3 linked regions of the Homo sapiens genome follow. The gene in region 1 interacts genetically with each later gene. Each region holds a gene or a part of one and is shown in the gene's direction. Other genes may lie near its edges.

The links.
Region 2: changes in AXL (region 1) and CSF3R together harm fitness more than expected from each alone (negative genetic interaction), as found in Homo sapiens cells (one large-scale study listed by BioGRID).
Region 3: changes in AXL (region 1) and EDA together harm fitness less than expected from each alone (positive genetic interaction), as found in Homo sapiens cells (one large-scale study listed by BioGRID).

The regions. Positions count from the first base shown.
Region 1 is NC_000019.10:41,239,723-41,243,222, forward strand, and holds part of AXL (tyrosine-protein kinase receptor UFO isoform 1 precursor), read left to right. Parts: intron 1-3,160; coding exon 3,161-3,293; intron 3,294-3,500. UniProt on the Homo sapiens protein: Receptor tyrosine kinase that transduces signals from the extracellular matrix into the cytoplasm by binding growth factor GAS6 and which is thus regulating many physiological processes including cell survival, cell proliferation, migration and differentiation.
Region 2 is NC_000001.11:36,476,414-36,479,913, reverse strand, and holds part of CSF3R (granulocyte colony-stimulating factor receptor isoform a precursor), read left to right. Parts: intron 1-397; 5' UTR 398-417; coding exon 418-481; intron 482-3,500. UniProt on the Homo sapiens protein: Receptor for granulocyte colony-stimulating factor (CSF3), essential for granulocytic maturation. Plays a crucial role in the proliferation, differentiation and survival of cells along the neutrophilic lineage.
Region 3 is NC_000023.11:70,035,613-70,039,112, forward strand, and holds part of EDA (ectodysplasin-A), read left to right. Parts: 3' UTR 1-3,500. UniProt on the Homo sapiens protein: Cytokine which is involved in epithelial-mesenchymal signaling during morphogenesis of ectodermal organs. Functions as a ligand activating the DEATH-domain containing receptors EDAR and EDA2R. May also play a role in cell adhesion.

The DNA.
Region 1 (3,500 bases):
AAGGGCTTCCACACCCCATCTCCTCCTTCCCTACCCTCAACACCTAGTGGGGGCACTGTCACCATGCATACTCATTGCACATCCCTTTCATGTTTCTCTAACTCATCACTCTAACCTACTTCTTGAGTTTGTGTGGTCCTTGATGGAGGTGCCTATAATGGCCTAGCATAGCACATTGTAGGTATTCAGGCAATGACAGATGAGTGGGTGGATGGATGAACAAATAGATGGATGGATGGATGGATAGATATATGGAGGGTGGATGGGTGGGTGGGTCAATGGATGAATAGAGGATGGATAGGCGGGTGAACAGATAAATGACTGGATGTCGAGTGGATAAATGGATGGGTAGATGGATGGGTGGATGGATGGATGGGTGGATATATGGAGAATGGATGGGTGTGTGGGCCAATGGATGAATAGAGGGTGGATAGGTGGGTGAACAGATAAATGACTGGATGGTGAGTGGATAAATGGATGGGTAGATGGATGGGTGGATGGATGGGTGGGTGGATATATGGAGGGTGGATGGATGGATGGTTGGATATATGGAGGGTGGATGGGTGGGTGGGTCAATGGATTAATAGATGGGTGGATAGGTGGATGAACAAAAGATGACTGGGTGGTGAGTGGATATATGGATGGGTAGATGGGTGGATGGATGGATGGATGGATGGATGAATGGATGGTTGGATAAATGGATGGATGGACAGATGGATGGATTTGTGAGTGGATGAATGGATGGGTAGAAAGGTGGATGGATGGATGAATGAGGTATCCTCCTCACATCCATCCCTCTCAAATATTTCTCTAACAATTCTCAAACATTCCTCCTACACCCATTGTCCCCTCTGGGCACTATTATGGTTCACTCTTGTAACTCAACCCACTAGCCTTCAATACTCCTCACATCCCTTCCTACATTTCTTCACATACGCTTTCCACGCTTATTCCACCCTCCTTTCACATATATCCCATTATAATCCGTTCCTCCCACATGACCCCAAAGGCCCATTGCACAACACACTTCTCATTCACAAACTCTGCACACCTTGTATGCACTTACCATACCTTCCACATTGCAAACACTGAAAAACATTGTCCACAACTTTCCCACACCCGATTCTCCTTGCATGCTTACTGCACACTCCATAGACATCATTCCCTCACCCTTCACTAATCCCAACCCATCTCACTCTGCACACTCACCCTGAACCCCTTGCATACTCAGCACATAATGATCTTTATTTCTTACACACTCCATTCCACCCCTGCCCTTTTTACACCCCCTTTCTGTGCACCCCATACTTCTCATCTGCCCTTCTAACATCTTTTGCATGCTCACTGCACACTTCTCTCACACTGCAATTACATCCTTAAAATTCCTTGCTCACTCCTTGTATCTAAGACTTCACGAATACTCTTCCCACTTCACACACCCCCAACTTTTCCAGCAGCCATCCAACCCTGTATATGCTTACCATGCCCCTTTGGATATTTATTTCACCCTCATTCCTGGCTTTATGGAAACCATTGTGGCCGGGTGCAATGGCTCACGCCTGTAATCCCAGTACTTTGGGAGGCCTGAGACAGGTGGATCACCTGAGGTCAGGAGTTCAAGACCAGCCTGGCCAACATTGGCGAAAACCCATCTCTACTAAAAATACAAAAATTAGCTGGGCCTGGTGGTGCGAGCCTGTAATCCCAGCTGCTCGGGAGGCTGAGGCACAAGAATTGCTTGAACCTGGGAGGCGGAGGTTACAGTGAGCCAAGATCATGCCACTATACTCCAGCCTGGGCAACACAGCAAGACTCTGTCTCAAAAAAAAAAAAAAAAGAAAGAAAGAAAGAAAAAAAGAAAGAAAAGAAAAAGAAAAGAAAAAAAAATTAGCCAGGTGGCACAGACCTGCAGTCCCAGCTACTCAGGAGACATGGTGAAACCCTGTCTCTACCAAAAAAAGAATACAAAAATTAGCTGGGCATGGTGGTGCACACCTGTAATCCCAGCTACTTAGAAGCTGAGGCAGGAGATTTGCTTGAAACTGGGAGGCAGAGGTTGCAATGAGCTGAGACCGGGCCACTGCACTCCAGCCTGGGTGAAAGAGTGAGACCCTGTCTCAAAAAACAAACAAACAAAAAAAGAGACAAAGAAAACCCTTTTGTAGTCATTGCATTCTCTTCAAAAGATGTTCCTTAGTCCGCCCTCCTTGCACACGCTTCATGCACCATCCTACACTGCAAGGATCTTCTTCCCCACTCACCTGCTTATCTACACTCTAGTCCACCCTTCTTGCACAATCATCACATTTCTCACACTAACCTATGCTGCTTGAGATTTCTCCACACCCATCTCATGTTCATCTAGCCCTCTTGGCACACTCATAACGCGTTCCACACATCTCTCCCTCCCATTCCACACTCACTGCACACTCCTCAAATATCCATTCCACTCTTCTGTTTTTTTGGATCTTGGTGGCATAATATTTGGTAGCTTAAAGTAAGGAAAACTGCAAACGCCCAAACAGAGACTTGAACCCTGAACCCTCAGGTTAAAAGTCTGATGCTCTACCACCTGAACTATCCTGGCACTCTCTTTTTTTTTTTTTTTTTTTTTTTTTTGAGATGGAGTCTTGCTCTGTCACCCAGGATGGAGTGCAGTGGCCCAGTCTCGGCTCACTGAAACCTCCACCTCCCAGGTTCAAGCAATTCTCCTGCCTCAGCTCCCGAGTAGCTGGGATTGCAGGTGTGCACCACCACCCCAGCTAATTTTTGTATATATTTTGTTTAAGTAGAGACAGGGTTTCATCATGTCGGCCGGGCTGGTCTTGAACTCCTTGCCTCAAGTAACCCACCCGCCTTGGCCTCCCAAAGTGCTGGGATAACAGGCATGAGCCACCACACCTGGCCTCCATCCCACTCTTAACTCACCCATCCTACAACTTTCACACACTTCTGCTTTAACCTGCACTTGTATCACATCCATTGCATGCCCTGTCCAGCCCAGCCCATTCAGATATGTGAATGCATCCATCACACACCTCATCAAGTATGTGCACATCTTTGCCGAGGCCTTCTGCCTCCCTCCCACATCACCCCTTTGGGTCCCAGAGAGCTGGATCCAAGGCTTCATCCATGACCTGTTCCTCATACCCCCTGATAGTGAAGGAACCTTCAACTCCTGCCTTCTCGTGGCCCTGGTGGTATGTACTGCTAGGAGCAGTCGTGGCCGCTGCCTGTGTCCTCATCTTGGCTCTCTTCCTTGTCCACCGGCGAAAGAAGGAGACCCGTTATGGGTGAGTTGGAACCACATGGGGAGGCTGTGTGGCCTGGGATGGAGAGGCTGGAGGCAGGGAGGCCAGTGAGGAGGCTGGTGCAGGAGGAGTGATGACTAAGAATCAGAATGAGGGCAAGGGAAGCCAGGCGTGGTGGCTCACGCCTGTAATCCCAGCACTTTGGGAGGCTGAAGCAGGTGGATCACTTGAGGTCAGGAGTTTGAGACC
Region 2 (3,500 bases), on another chromosome or scaffold:
TGCTGCTAGGATCTTCTCAAAATAAACTACCAGCATGCAATTCCTCATCTCAGGTTCTGCTCTCTAGGGGTAGCCTAGCTTAGATAGCTGGGAAGGCGGAAGAATGCTCTTCCTCACTGCTCCTTTCCCTGCTCTTTCCTGGAAGGCAAGTATAATAACTGTGGCTGTCACTGTCATTTCCTATGTTCCAGGCACTGTGAAAAGCCCTTGACTTGCATCATTTTGTGTCTTCCTCTCAAAGTCCCATGCAGTATAGGCTGCTGTTACTTCCATTTTGCAAAGAAACGAAGGCTCAGAGAAGTCAAGCAACCTAGTCAAAGCTGCACAGTGACAGACAAGGATTAAGATCAGCTCTGACTCCAAAGCCCATGGTCTTAAACAACCCTTCTGCCTACAGGTGAACATCAAGTTGGTGCTATGGCAAGGCTGGGAAACTGCAGCCTGACTTGGGCTGCCCTGATCATCCTGCTGCTCCCCGGAAGTGAGTATGGCCAAGGATGAGGGTGCAGTGGGGAGGGGAAGCTACAAGGAGAGATATTGGGAATTTCCTTGCACTGCCACATGGCTCCTGGGATTCCCAGAGAATCCCACAAGATTCAAGTCTGAGCCACAGATGTGGGGTAGCTGGTCTCCCACCCACAGACTTCCACAGGCAAACCACCACCCAAGAGGAATGGTGAGACGACCCGGGCTGGTCATCCTGGAAAAGGCCAGTGAGGCGCAGATCTTGTCCGCAAATCTCTACCAAGCTGTCAGAAGCAACCCATGGGTCCTATGCAGCCTTGGTGGGCAGCAAAGGGATCAGGATGGAAGCTACAAGGGGACAGGTTTCATCCTGAAATAAAGAAGCCCAGGCAGAGCTTGGTTTCCAACCATGGAAACTCTGTCTTGAGAGGTAGAGAACTTCCCATCCCCAGGGGTATGCAAGCTAAAGCCAGGATTGATAAAGATGCTGTGCAGCAGGGGTTGGCAAACTTTTTCTGACAGTAATGTTTAGGCTTTGCAGGCCACATACTGTCTCTGTTCCTTGTTTGTTTGTTTGTTTGTTTGTTTGTTCGTTTGTGAGACAGGGTCTCCCTCTGTTGCCCAGGCTGGAGTGCAGTGGCACAATCGCAGCTCACTGCAGCCTCAACCTCCTGGGCTCAAGTGATCCTCCCGCCTCAGCCTCCAAGGTAGTGCAGGGCATGCCACCACACCCAGCTAATTTTTTTTTGTTGTTGTATTTTTTTGTAGAGATGTAGTTTTGCCATGTTGCCCAGGCTGGTCTCAAACTCCTGGGTTCCAGCAATCCACCTGCCCTGACCTCCCAAAGTATGGGGATTACAAGCATGACCCGCCACGCCCTGCCTATTGCATGTTTTTTGGTTTTTGTTTTTTTGTTTTTTGAGATGGAGTCTCACTCTCTTGCCCAGGCTGAAGTACAGTAGCGGGATCTCAGCTCACTGCAACCTCCGCCTGCCGGGTTCAAGCGATTCTCCTGCCTCAGCCTCCCGAATAGCTGGGATTACAGGCACCTGCCACCAGGCCCTGCAAATTTTTGTATTTTTACTAGAGATGGGGTTTCACCATGTTGGCCAGGCTGGTCTCAAACTCCTGACGTCAGGTGATCCACTCACCTCGGCCTCCCAAAGTGCTGGGATTACAGGCATGAACCACCGCGCCCAGCCCTGTGGCATGTTTTTATTTGGTTTTTGCTTTGCTTGTTTTTAACTCTTTTAAAATGTAAGAAACATCTTTAGTTGTTAGGCTATACAAAAATAGGCCACTCAAGCCCTGCTGTAGAGGGCAGAGCATCAGGTAGAGTTTTGAAGCAAACAACCTTGTAAAGTTTCTTCCAGCCTGAAATCCTGAGTCTGGGCCGGGCGCGGTGGCTCACGCCTGTAATCCCAGCACTTTGGGAGGCCTAGGCGGGTGGATCACAAGGTCAGGAGATCGAGACCATCCTGGTGAACACAGTGAAACCCTGTATCTACTAAAAATACAAAAAATTAGCCGGGCATGGTGCCGGGTGCCTGTAGTCCTAGCTACTCGGGAGGCTGAGGCAGGACAATGGCGTGAGCCCAGCAGGCGGCGCTTGCAGTAAGCCGAGATCACGCCACTGCACTCCAGCCTGGGCAGCAGAGTGACTCCGTCTCAAAAAAAAAAAAGAAATCCTGAGCCTGTGAAGCAGTAGAAGCCCTTTGTTGAGAATCATGAACTTGCTCTGTGACCCTGGGCAAACTGCTTCTCCTCTTAGGGCCTTCGCATCCCCATCAGTAAAACGGGCCTAAGAACACCTGAGAGAGGACAGAAAGCATTGCGGGCAAAGTGTATGTTGATTTGTTTGTTTATTTATTTATCAAAAAAAATTCATCGGCCGGGCGCAGTGGCTCATGCCTGTCATCCTAGCACTTTGGGAGGCTGAGGCGGGTGGATCACGAGGTCAGGAGATCGAGACCAGCCTGCCAGCATGGTGAAAACCCATCTCTACTAAAAATACAAAAAAAAATTAGCCGGGCATGGTGGTGCGTGCCTGTAGCCCCAGCTTTTCGGGAGGCTGAGGCAGGAGAATCGCTTGAACCTGGGAGGCGGAGGTTGCAGTGAGCCGAGATTGTGCCACAGCACTCCAGCCTGGGTGACAGAGCGAAACTCCTTCTCAAAATAATAATAATAATAAATATTCACCAAGGTCCTACTCTGTACTAGGCACTGGGAATACAGTAATAAGCAAACAGCCAAGGTCTGCTGGCCTCACAGAATTTATAGTCTAGCTGGAGTGATAGATAAGTAAATAATCATAAGACTCTATAATTATGAAGGATAATAAGAGCTTTGAGGAAGTACAGGGACCTTGGCCTCCTCCAGTTCGTTAGTGCCTGGTCTGGTTTCTTCAAGATGCCTAAGCGTTAACCAGGTGAAACAGGGGTGGGAGAGAGAAAGAAGAGTCCCTCCAAAAAGAACAGCATGCCGGGCACAGTGGTTCACATCTGTAGTCCCAGCACTTTGGGAGGCTGAAGCAGGAGGATTGCTTGAGCCCAGGAGCTCAAGATTAGCCTAGGCAACATAGTGAAACCCCATCTCTACCAAAAAAAAAAAAAATCAAAAAATTAGCAAGGTGTGCTGGCATGAACCTGTAGTCCCAGCTACTCAGGAGGCTGAGGTGGGAAGATCACTTGAGCCTAGGAGGTCAAGGGTGCACTGAGCCGTGATCGTGCCACTGCACTCCAGCCTGAGTGACAGAGCAAGAACTTGAAGAAAAAAAAGAAAAGAAAAAGAAAACCAAAACAAAACAACAACAACAAAAAAAAAAAAACAGCAGGGACAAAGATCCAGAGATTAGAAAGATTTTGGAGTTTTCAAAGAATAGCAAGAATGAGCCAGAATAGCTGGAGCTGAGAGACCGGTATAAGCTGGAACTGAGAGGGTCAGGCAGGGGCCAGGCCACAGGAGCTATTGAAGGATTTGAGTGTTTATCCTAATGATGGCAGCAAATACTCACATGCCAGACACTGCTCTAAATG
Region 3 (3,500 bases), on another chromosome or scaffold:
CCCCCCATTTTGCCTCTGTCCGTGCCCCTTCCCTGGGTTTGGGAGCCAGGACTCCCAGAACCTCTAAGTGCTGCTGTGGAGTGAGGTGTATTGGTGTTGCAGCCGCAGAGAAATGCCCCAGTGTTATTTATTCCCCAGTGACTCCAGGGTGACAAGGCCTGCTTGACTTTCCAGAATGACCTTGAGTTAACAGGACAGTTGATGGAGCCCCAGGGTTTACATGAAGCAGAACCTTCTTTGGTTCCATGTTGACTGACTTATGGCATGACTCTTCAACCCCGAGGTCCCTGTTGTCAGATCTATTGTTTGTTGCACTAAAATGAGGATCCAGGGCAGCAGGCCAGAGAAAGCAAAGGTGCACTCCAGACTCTGGGGGTGGACATCTGACCCCAAGGGGGCTGCTGCTCCTCTCTTGGGTAGGGTAGTGGCTGGGGTGGAGTGGGAAGGGAGCATTGCAGCCTAAGAAGAAGGCCAGAGAGGGAAAAGGCAGGTGCTTTTGGCAGAGACCATAAGAGAAACCTGCCAAGGAGCATCCTTGGCAGTGGGAATGTTCTTTCTGCTCTATACTGTGGCCTGCAGGAGGGTTGGAGTGCTCTTCCCACTCCAGCTGACAGCCACACCGTGGCAGCTTGCTGGGCTTTGGGAAGTTTGCTGTGCTTTGGAACAATCACAGGGAATGGCCACAAACCTGCCCGCCTAAGACCCTGAATCCGTACTTGGGTCACATGACTCTCATTTTATTTACAGCTGTGCTCCACACTCAGAAAATTCCCTGGGGTCACCTTCTAGTTGCCCCCATTCCCAGCCTGACTAGAACTCCTGTCTTCTTTCTCCATGGAGCCTACCTCTGTCTGAGACAGGTGCCTAACCTGGGACCTGTGGTCATGTGAGTCTGGGATATTCTTTAGCTTACCTGGGCACAAACAGAATTTTCCATTTATTAAGCAGTACAAATGTTTTTCATCCATTCCTAATCAAATTCTGTCTGGGGACGAAGGGTTGGACGGGATGACCTCCAGAAGTCCCTTCAATTTCTAGTACCTGTGACTCTTAGCCCTCACCACAGCCTTCTAAATTCCCAAATCCTAGACTGCTCCTGGGCATTAGCAAGGCAGAGCCTTTTTACCTGGCCTAGAAAGGGCAAGGGGTGAGGATAGGACAGAGGGATTTTGTTCAAGTTTGCTGCAACCCAAGTGGACGTTAGGCCAGGCCTTATCTGAAAGGCCAGCAGCTGATGCTGTACTAACCCAGTCTTTCTTCACTCTGGCTTCAAAAAGCCACAGCAGAGCATTGTCACCGCAGGTGCTCATGCTGCTCCCCTAAAGCCAGGCTCAGGAGAAGCCAGTGTCTAGGCACTGAGCAGGGATCTGCCCCCTAGTTCAGGTCCAAATTCACCTTCCCCTAAACCCCAAGCTTCCCAACAGATCATATGGTAGGACCCTCGAGAGCCTTACTTCAAAGTGCCTGGGCTCAGCCTGGTTTCTGGGTGCTAGATCCAGCCCAAACCTGGGAAGGCCAGCCTTGTACAGTCTGCTCCTCTTGTTCCTGAAATGTGTTTCCTTTTCAGGAGATGGGGAATAATTTCCTTCAGGCAGCTGAAATTCACCAAGAACAGCGGGTACTTATTTCTCAGCTGTGCCTTCCCTTTCTAAGCAACCACACTGCTTGGCCCTTCAAGGGTCAGGGTGAGACGTGATGGGCTAGGCCTCCGTTGTCTGGTTGCTAATGACAGCCTTGCAACCCAAGGTGAGGTGAACTCCAGGCATGTGTCTGGCCCTAACTCCTATAAAGTGCCTCGGACAGTCCGCAGTTGTAGCAGAAACCAACAAGAACCACTCCTTCATGTTTGGAAAATAATTTCTCTTGTATTATCTCCTTTGAAGAAGGCAAGGCTGATAATATGACAAACATCATTGTTTAGATGAGGCTCAGAGAGGTAGCACTCTCAGAGTGTTTTGACCAGTTTAAGCCGCAGACCTGGAGCTTCAGCCAGGTCTGACTCCAAAGCTGTTCCATTACACCACAGCATTGTGTGGAATTTGAGGTCTAGAGAGAACCAATAAAAGTGGTAATTGGGAACTGAAATCCTTGAGAGTTCCGGGGAGAAACCCAGAGATGCCTGATTTCATTCCTCGATGGTAATACCCGTCCTCTCGGCTGCCAGGGGCTCTGTGGCAAAAAGAGTCAGACATTTCTTTGGAAAACAGCGAACAGCCTTAGAGCTCTTGTGTTCAGAAGAATCTTCCTGGCACAATGTTGGAGCAGCAGGCCTCTGGGACCCACAGAACTTGTGGCCTTTATGTTCTTTCACCCATCCTAGGAACCAGCCAACCATCATGTGTAGAGCCCCTACTGTGGGCAAAGTCCTCCTTTCATTACCCTACAGACAGCTTACAGGAGCCAGCCTGCTTCCCACAACTACTAGTGTGACTCCTTATCTCTTTCCACCATACCTTAGAGACTTTGATACTACCAGGGTCTCTCAGGGATGGAGGGAAGACCTGAAAGAGAGGACTGGTTCTGAGGCCAGAAAGGTGTGAGGAGAGAGGAGGAAAAGTCTTCCTAATTGTGCCCCTAAAGAGCATCCTGATACCATTCTATTCTCCAGACATGGAGGGGATGATAAAGGAAATAGGATCTCCACTGGACCCTTGATTCATTCTGAACCCTCCAAAGGAACTCTAGAGGGCGAGGGATGATGAGGGAAGCAATAGGTAGCTGGGGAGCCCTATTGCTGCTAAGTCATTGGCAAAGTGACAAAGCAATTTACTGATGAGAGAATGTGGAAATAGATGTGCAGTTTGGAATTATGTTGGTGTGAATTTGCCAGAGGACCAATGCTTGCATGGAGAATGGGACGAGGACATTTGTGGGCAAGCAGATGACAGAGGTTTGAAGGAGAATGGCATGGCAGGAGTCTCTGCCAGTTACTTGGGCTTCAACAGCCAAGCTGGCACAAAAGACAGCTGGCGGAGGCTGCTCGGCTACTGGTTACCTGGAGAAGTAGTATTTGCCTATTTCCCCCTTCATCCATCCTGAGCCAAATTTCTTTTGCTGAACAGGAAAGAGCTAGGAACCCTGGAGGTAAACAAAGACTTTGATCCATGTATGAGTGTATGTGTTTATGTAACTTCCTGTGGATGCAAATAGATTCAGAGAAATTTAGAGCTAAAAAGGCCCTTAGAGGGAATCTAGCCCAACCTACATTCCACCCTGTTACTTATGTAGAAACTGAGGCCCAGAGAGGGAAGATGACCTGCCCCAAGTGGTGAGCAAGCACCAACCTCCAGACTCAGCAGAGTGAGGGGGTAAAGCAGTTCCTGTCCCACATGGCCATCTTCTTTCTTCCACCCACAAACTCCAGGCTGGAAGTACTTGGCCCCCTTCAGGAGCCTGGCCAGGCAGGGAGAGAGTAGCTGCAGCCTTCATCAGAACTCTTCCTCCTCCCAAGGCATTCTCCCAGCTCTAGCCTCTGGACTGGAAAGCACAAGACTGGCCCA